Regions from separate parts of the Homo sapiens genome. Here region 2 is linked to region 1. The links come from fine-mapping of genetic effects on gene expression. A gene starts in region 1. The other region holds a variant in brackets. All regions are shown on one strand. Distances are between the middles of the regions. Region 1 holds the start of SHANK1 (SH3 and multiple ankyrin repeat domains 1). Region 2 has its middle 7.4 kb from the start of GPR32.

What was found. PIP is the estimated chance that this variant, and not a neighbour inherited with it, causes the effect.
Region 2: its variant is the best candidate, but not a certain one, in a credible set for the expression of SHANK1 in skin (TwinsUK, PIP 0.75).

Annotation. Positions count from the first base shown.
Region 1 is chr19:50,717,251-50,721,630 of GRCh38, reverse strand. It overlaps SHANK1 (SH3 and multiple ankyrin repeat domains 1), which reads left to right and starts at 1,829. Exons shown (of 24, transcript NM_016148.5): 1 at 1,829-2,225.
Region 2 is chr19:50,775,686-50,780,065 of GRCh38, reverse strand. No RefSeq gene overlaps it. Among named protein-coding and RNA genes, the nearest start is that of GPR32, 7.4 kb to the right of the region's middle. RefSeq lists an enhancer at 1,629-2,453. The variant C/T (reference allele first, on the strand shown) is at 2,567.

The sequences.
Region 1 (4,380 bases):
GAAACAGCATAGCCTGCTGGAGGTCACCAGTGTGGCGGCAGCTAGCCAAGGTTTCTGGCTCCAAGAGCAGGGCATCTGCCCTCGGCTGCCGGGAGCCCCAGGAGGGGCCTTGGAAATCAGTGCCTCCAGCCTTCCGTTTTCCAAGAAATCCTGGTACATCGAGGGCACTGTGACCTTGGGCAGACTGCTCCCTGCCTCAGAGCCTGGGCCTCTCAGGTGCCCATCGGGAACCTGGGGCCCCTCACCAGGAGCTACAGACCTCAAGAAATAATGCGTATGTGGGGAAAGGCCTTGTAAAGTGTGCAGGGGTGCACAGCCTCTCTGGCTGCTGGAGCCAACATGGGCAGCTGTGCTTTCCCCGGGCCCAGCTGCTCACCACCTGGGCTAGTGGGTACGCATCAAGATAGAGGCCTCCCCAGGCTGAGCAGGCACCTCCTCCAGCTCATACTCGGGTACCCCGGAGAGCCTGCAGCTGGAGGGGAACCCAGAAGCTGCCTAGAACTGCCCCCTGCAGGCCCTGGAGGTGCTGTTGGAGCTGGGAGAATGAGGAAGCCTGGGCTAAGGGGACACTCACCACTCACTGCTGCCCTGTGGGATCTGCTCTGTCCCTGTGGGTGCGTCCCAGGCATGAATGAGCTGTCTGCCTGCAGCTGGCTGCATATGCGTGCCTACACAGACATGTGCAAACTCTGAGGAGACGGTTGGGTGTGTCTGTGTGTGATGAATAAGGATATGCAACTATGAGGGGATATGCCCAGTAGTGCACCATAGTTGTCAAGTGAGGACTTTGGAGCCAGCCTACCTGTTCCTGATCCTTGTTACCACCTCCTTACAGCTGGATGACCTTGGGCAAGTTACTTAGCCTCTCTGTTCCTTGGTTTCCCCCTCTGGAAAATGGGGATGGCGAAAGTCCCTGAGCCTGGCACACAGAAAGTGCTCCAGGAATGTCAGCAGTAACTATCCTGGAGGGGAAGGATGGCACGGTGTTGGGCATGTAAACGGGTGAGTGCGAGCCAGTGCAATGGACAGCACGGTGGGTGGGTGTGATGGGAAGGCGTGCACACGTCTCTACAGTGCTGTAACTCCGTTTTGGTGTTGAGAGATCTGGGCATGCATACCGGGGTGAACGCCTGTGTGCGTGTGTGCGCGCGCACGTGCGTGTGTGGTGGGCAAATGTGTGCATGTGCTGCGTGTGTGCCCGGGCACAGGGGTGTGACAACTGCATGTAGCTGGGTGTGTTTGTAGCTGTGTACCCCAGGTGCATTGTGTCTGGGCATGCATGCGCTGGAGAGTGTGTGTATGTGGGGACTCTGCAGGTGCCGTTACAGCTGGTGACTATGCACCTGTGCCTTGGGGAAATGTGGCCTGGCCCAGGTATGTCCACGTGTGCCCTGACCCAGTGCTTAAATGGAAAGGGTGTGTGTGTGTTTGGGGGGACAGGGTGGGAATCTATAGCCTTCACACTTAAATTTGGGGGTGTAGAGTCTGGCAACAAATATTTATTGTGCCCCACTCTGTGTAGGGCGGCGGGGAGCTCTCTGGGAGGGGGTGGTCCTGAGGTGTGTGTGGGGGGGCACCTTATGGGGGCAGGACCCCTTCCTCGGGGTATGGGAGCAAGCAGGGGCGGAGTCAGGATTTGGGGACTCGGAGGTGGGGAGGAGTGGTGGGGGAGGGCAAGGGTAGGGGGCGGAGCCGGCGGTGGTGGGGGATGGGCGAGGTTTGGGGGCGCGGGGAGGGGCGATGTCTCCTCCGCCGGCTCCCGGAGGGAGGGGAGAGGGCGGAGGGAGGGGAGGGAGGGAGAGAGGGAGGGAGAGAGACAGGGTGAGGGAGAGACAGCGAGAGCGAGAGAGCGAGAAGGGTGGCAGAGGAGGCGCGGAGCGGGCGGCGGCGGCGGCGGCCCGAGGAAGAGGAGGAGGAAGAGCAGGCGGAGACGCGGCGCCCGGAGCCGGCCGGACCGAGCCGGGGGCGGGCGAGGAGGGGCGCGGCGGCCGCGGCGGAAGGGGGGGCGCTCTGCGGATGGCCAGGCCCGGCCCGCGGGGGGGGTGAGGTCCTCGGCCCTCCCGCCCTCCCCCCCGGTCCCCGCCCGCCCCCTCCCCGGGCCCGCTCGCCCTCCGGGGCGGTGGGGCATGGCCTGAGGGTCCCCGTCTCCGGGGGGGTGGGGGGTGGGGGGAGGGGGGAGGGGCCGCGGGCGCCGCCGACCGGGACTCAGCAGCCCCGCCAGGCAGGTAAGGGGGTCGAGAACCTGGGGGTTTGGGGCAGCTGCGGGGCCGGGGCCGCGGGAGGGGGCGAGGGCGCCCCGGATGTCCTTGGCCCGGCGCCGGGCTCCTGGCCTGGGTGTGCGGCTGGGGGTACGGGTGAGGTGGGGAGCGTTGCCCTGGGCGACACCAAATTGGGTTACGCCCGGGTCCCCGGTGCCCCGTCCCAGATCGCATCCTTGATGGGAGGGCGCGCCCCCCACCCCCGGCCAGCAGAGCCCCTATCCCGAACCCGCCTCCCGGCTCTCCGGGGCCAAGGGCTCGGTCCTGGTACCCGCCTCCCCGCCCAGCCCGGCCACTCCCCCGCCTCGCCCTCCCTGGCGTACCTGGGCCCCTCCGCCAGGTCACCCTGGTCCCCACTCCCCTCCAGCGAGGGTCTAGGCCCGGGCCTCCTCCGCCCCTTTCGACCCCTCCAGCTCCCGCTTCTCCTTCCAGGCTCCTCCAGTCCCTTTCCACCCCTGTCCAAGCTCCCTGCGTCCCCACCAGGTCTCCAGTCCCTACACCGCCGGCCGGCGCGCCCCCTCGGCTCCCGCCCCCGACTCCTGCTCCCCGGTGCCCCCCGCCCCTCTCCCCGGCCGGGTTCTCCCCCACCAGTTTCCCAGCCTCGGCTCCGGCTCTCTCTCCCCGCCCCTCCCCGCCTCCCTCCGCCTCCATTCATTCTCCCCGGCCCCGCTCTCGGCCACGCCAGCCGCCCCCTGTCCCCCCACAGCCTCCCAGGGCACCCCCTCTCTCGCGTCCTCCACCACCCCCCTCGCCGATTCCTCAGCCCGTCTCGGTACCAGCTGCGTGCCAGCTATTCTTAGCCGCGGAGCGTTTGATTCATGCCGCCCCGGCGGAGCGTGCCCGCTCCCTCCCGCGAGCCCTGAGGGGGAGGGGCCGGAGCCGGCCCGGGGGGGCTGGGGCAGCCGTACGCGCGGGGGGCCCTAGCCAGCTTTTCTTTCATCCCACCGGCCACCCCCTCCGAGCGGGGTTGAGGCTGGGGGTCAGCCAGGGTCAGCCGAGGGGGAGTGTCTGCGGGCCCCAGATCGCGAGGTGGGCTGTGCGGCGGGGCAGGGAGGAGGCAGCCGGGGTCTCCGCAGGGACGAGGTGGGGCGGCGTGGCTGGGTACCTGGAGGGGGAGGGGGCTTCGCAGCGCTGCCGCGCGTGGGGGAGGGGTCCGCCGGCCCTGGGTTAGAGGCTCGCTCGCCCACACCTCCTGGAACTCTCCTCCCACCACACACATTTAGTCTTCCCTTTCCCAACCCCCCAGCCCATCCCCACTCCCCCAAAGTCAGCAGTACCCTCCACTGCTTCCCATCTCCATGGCAACGGTGCAGGAACCGGGCCTGGTGTTGGGGGGAGGGACCAGACCAGACATTCTGGTTTCCGGTGCTGGGGTGGGAGTTGGGGGAGAACAGAAGGGAGGCGGACCCCATTTGGAAGGGGCTCCACCCTCATAAGGCCACCTCAAGGGAGAACAGCAAGGATCTAGAGATGATCCCCCACTCAGTTCCCCAGACCCTCCTCTCACTTCTTAGCCTCCCTCCTAACACCCCCAGTCCTCAGAGTGGAGCCCCTAGTACCCAGCAAGCCAGCCCACCCACCCTGCAGTCCTAGAAAAGAGCTACAGGTCATCTGCAGCCACCCACATCTACCCGGGCCACCACACCACTGTCACCTGGACAGCACTCCCCAGGCCGACCTCCCCACCTACCCGCACACCCTCTCAAGATGCCCCAGTCTCCAAAAGCCACCTCTTGTGGTTCCCTTGGGGACACCCTAGGCCAAATGCTCTGCCCATGACACCCCCATCTCAGTGCCCCTTGCTCCCCTGGGACGGCAGATTCCCCAGCACTATTCGGCATGCCACGCGTTGTCAGCCACACTTGAGTGAAGTCACCAGCTCCACCCGCTCCAGGCTCACCACACCTCCCTCTCCCCCTTACTACATCTCAGTGTCAGCCTCAGCTTCTCCCCAACCCCACCCCCCGGCCCTGGGATGAGGGGCCAGGCTGGGGCCAGGAGGGCAGGATGCCTGTCAGTTTGTCCACCTGTCTGTCCTTAGCTAATTTTAGCTGCATTTTCTGTGGCCTGGCAAAGTGGGCCAGTAGCTCCCGCGGTGATTCTGCGGTTTCTGGGACACGGC
Region 2 (4,380 bases), 58 kb before region 1:
GGGTGCCGCCTCCCCTCCCGTATTGCCTGAGAGAAACGGAGGTAGTGATTAAGAGCGCGTGATTACCTCTCCTGCCTGGGAGGTGAATGTCTTTCTGTGTAATCATTCCGTTCAGAACTGTCTGCCCCCAGGCTGCGAGCTCTATGAGGGCAGACTCCATTCTATTCAGGCATGTTCAAATCCCCAGGGTGGCAGAGATTTGCACCTACTATGAGCTCAGCCAATACTTGTAGGGACAGGGTATAGCAAGGAGGCAGAGGCTGTAGAATCTGAAGGATGGAGAGTGTCAGCCCTGCCCTGAAATGTCAGTTTCTCCCCTGCAATGTTAGCCTCTCCCACTGAATGTTAGCACCCTTATTTGAATGTTAGCCCCTCCTCCTGTATGTCAATTTCTCCCCTGCAATGTTAGCTCCTCCCCCTGAAATGTCAATTTCTTTCCTATGATGTTAGCTCCTCCCTTCTGAAATGTCAATTTCTCTCCTGCGATGTTAGCTTCTCCCCTCTTAAATGTCAATTTTTCTCCTGCGATGTTAGCCCCTCCTCGTTGTTAGCTCCTCCCCCTAGAATGTCCATTTCTTCCCATGGATTGTCAGTTCCTCCCCTTGGCATATTACCCCCTCCCTCATAAAGGTTGGCCCCTCCTTTATTGCCTGAGAGAATCAGAGGTAGTGATTAAGAGCATGCAATTACCCTAAAATGTTAGAAACAGAGGTAGTGATTAACAGTGTATAATTGTACTAAAAATATTAGCCCCTCCTCCTGAAATGTTAGCTCCTCCTCCCTGGAATATTAGCTCCTCCCCCTGGGATGTTAGTCCCTCCCCTCTGAATGTCAATTTCTTTCCCTGGAAGATCAGTTTCTCCCTTTGGAATTTTAGCCCCGCCTCCTAAAGTTATCCACTCCCCCTAAATGCTAGCCCCTCGCCCTTAAATGTTAGCCACTGCCCCCGGCATGTCAGTGCTACTCCCTAGAATGCTAGTCCTTCAAAGGTAGGTATCTTTGTCTTCTTTGCCTTTCTCCCACACCAAAAACAGTGACCTTCACCAGACAGGCGCTCGGTAAACATAACTGGATGGGTTAATGGAGTCAGACCGGTCAAATTCCCATCCTACACTTACTTGCTTTGTGACTTTCTTCTTTTTTTTTTTTAAGACGGAGTCTCACTCTGTCGCCCAGGCTGGAGTGCAGTGGCACGATCTCGACTCACTGCAGCCTCAGCCTCCCGGGTTCAAGCAATTCTCGTGCCTCAGCCTCCAGAGTAGCTGGCGTTACAGGCATGCACCACTACACCCGGCTAATGTTTGTATTTTTAGCAGAGACGGGGGTTTCATCTTTGGCCAGGCTGGTCTCGAACTCCTGACCTCAGGTGATCCGCCCCCCTCAGCCTTCCAAAGTGCTGGGATTACAGGCGTGAGCCACCGTACCCAGCCAGCTGTGTGACCTTCGGTAAATGACTTTACCTCTCTGAGCCTCGAGTTTCCTCCTCTGTACAACGGGAATAATCGCAGCACCGCCCTCAGGGTTGTGATGCTGACTTTGGGAGTTCACATGTTTAGAAAGCTCTGGACAGGGCCTGGTACTTAGGTCACGATCAATACCTGTGAGCTGTCATTATTTAAGGGATGAAGGCGTGAATCGCAGTCTTCAGCTGTCTTAGCAATTCTGTTGGATACGAATTTTTAGTCCCTGCTTGGCAGAGTATAATCCGGAGGCTTAACTCACCTTCCACGACTCTCTCTCGCCGAGGCTGCCCAGGAAAATGCCAGATCCTCTCAAGCACGGGGCCGTGCCCAGCTCCCGCGCGCTCCCCGAGACTCAAACCCACCTCCACCACCGCGCCTGGCTCTGCCCCAGCAAAGACCACGTCTCCCCAGGGAGGATCCTGCAGCCAGCTCTAAAAACCGCAGAGCCTCCTTGGAAGAATGCTGAACCGCATTCATTAGAAAATCAATGCAAATTAAAAACCTCCCCGGGATCCCACTTTTCTCCTCTGAGAAGGCAAAGATCAAAGAGGCTGACTTGGCGGTTGCTGCGTTGGCGAAGCCGTGGGAAACAGGCTTGCAGAGCGCTCGCGGCGGCGTCTGCGACATCGAACACTCCCTCTAACCCGGCAGTTCCCCAGGAGGAATTTATGCAACAGAGGATGATACTGATCACAGCAAACACATCGCACCTCCTCGGTGCCAGGCACGGAGCCAAGCGCCCCACCCACGGCAACGCAAGTCATCCTCACAGGGACCCTCTCAGGGAGCTACTGCCATTATCCCCATTTTACATTGGTGGAAACTGAGGCACAGAGAGTGGAAGCAACTTGTGTCCCATTGTGCTCTTCTGCCTTCTTGAAGCATTCACAAAAGTACACAAACACAAACGTAAAAGAATATTATTGTTGGTTTTGTGTGTGTGTACCTGTGTGCACACATGAGAGAGAGACAGAACATGGAAAAGAGTATTTCTCCTTCCAAAGAACCAGCTTCTTACTATTGTCCATAATTTTTTACTTAAAATTAACTCCCTCTAATCTCTATGAACGCTTTCTTTCAACTTTCAGTGCACTATTTTATAG[C/T]TTTTTTTTCTTCCTGAATTGTTTGCTTTGCTAATTTCCTCTCGGACTTTCTCTCTCTCTGTCTCTCTCTCTCTCTCTCTCTCTCTCTTCTAATTACAATTAAATTAAAGGCTGAGTGCAGTGGCTCACGCCTGTAATTTCAACACTTTGGGAGGCCAAGGCAGGACGATGGCTTGAGCTCAGGTATTTGAGATCAGCCTTGGTAACATAGCAAGACCCCATCTCTACCAATAAATTAATTAATTAATTAATTAATTAAACAAATAGCTGGGCATGGTGGAGATACTGGGGAGGCTGAGGTGGGAGGATCACTTGAGCCTGGGAGGTTGAGGCTACAGTGAGCAATGGTGCCACCATACTCCAGTCTGGGTGACAGAGTGAGACCCTGTCTCAAATAAACAACAACAACAACAACAAAACAAATAAATAAGCTATAGATTTTCCTCTGAGCACAGCTTTGGCCCCATCTCATAAGATTTTTTAAAAATATTTATTTATTTATTTATTTTTGAGACAGAGTCTTGCTCTGTCACCCAGGCTGGAGTGCAGTGGCACAATCTCAGCTCACTGCAACCTCTACCTCCAGGGTTCAAGTGATTGTCCTTCCTCAGCCTCCTGAGTAGCTGGGACTACAGGCATGCACCACCACACCTGGCTAATTTTTGTATTTTTAGTGGAGATGGGGTTTCACCATGTTGGCCAGGCTGGTCTCGAACTCCTGACCAGAGGTGATCTGCCTGCCTCAGCCTCCCAAAGTGCTGGGATTACAGGTATGAGCCACCGCGCCTGGCCGTAAGTTTTTATATGTAGTGTGCTTTAAATGAAGTAGAACTTAAGTTTTAATTAACAGTTGAACCAAGATGTTATTTAGAAGGGTGTTTTGCAATGTCCAAGGCAATTGAAGCATTTTTTTCATCTTTTGTTATTAATTTCTAAATTTGAATATGGCCTGTATTACCTCTGCTTTGGGGAATCAACCTATGTTTTATTTGTGACCTAATGCATAGTCTTTTTTTTTTTTTTTTTTTTCAAGGAGAGGCAGAGAATATCATTGCAGGATCCTGCTTTTTAAAAAATGCTCCATGCCAAGGGCAGCGGCTCACACATGTAATCTCAACACTTCGGGAGGCTGAAGCAGAAAGATTGCTTGAGGCCAGGAATTCAAGACCAGCCTGGGCAACATAGCAAGATTCTGTCTCTACAAAAAAAAATTTAATGAGGGCATGATGGCACATGCCTGTCGTCCCAGCTACTTGGGAGGCTGAGGCAGGAGGATTGCTCGAGGCTGCAGGGAGCTATGACCATGCCACTCTACTCCCGCCTGGTCAACAAAGCAAGAACCTGACTCAAAAAAAAAAATTGCTCTAAAGTTTATTATTGGAACAGTTAGGAAATTTGAATATGGCCTGTTTATTAGATAATACCAATGGTAAAGTTCTTGAGGGAGATAATAATATTATAATTTTACAGGGAAAATGCTCTTGTTCTTAGAAGATACAGGCTGAAGAATTAATAGGTAAAATATCGTGACGTCCTACCTGCGCCGACTTTAACACAGTTCAACATTTTTGGGAGGTACCTCTGAGCATTGTGCCCCTTGCAGCACAGTGGGTATGCTGAGGGCTCCCTCCCTGGGTTTCCCAGACCTCATGTCCCCGTCTTGTCTGCTCATCATACTGGAGGTACTACAGTGCGTGGACAGATGGAGAGAGAGACCGACAAAATGTGAGGATGGACAAATATCAGCATTGATATATTTAATTGAAATATATTGGCCAGGGTGGGGAGACTCACGCCTGTAATCCCAGCACTTT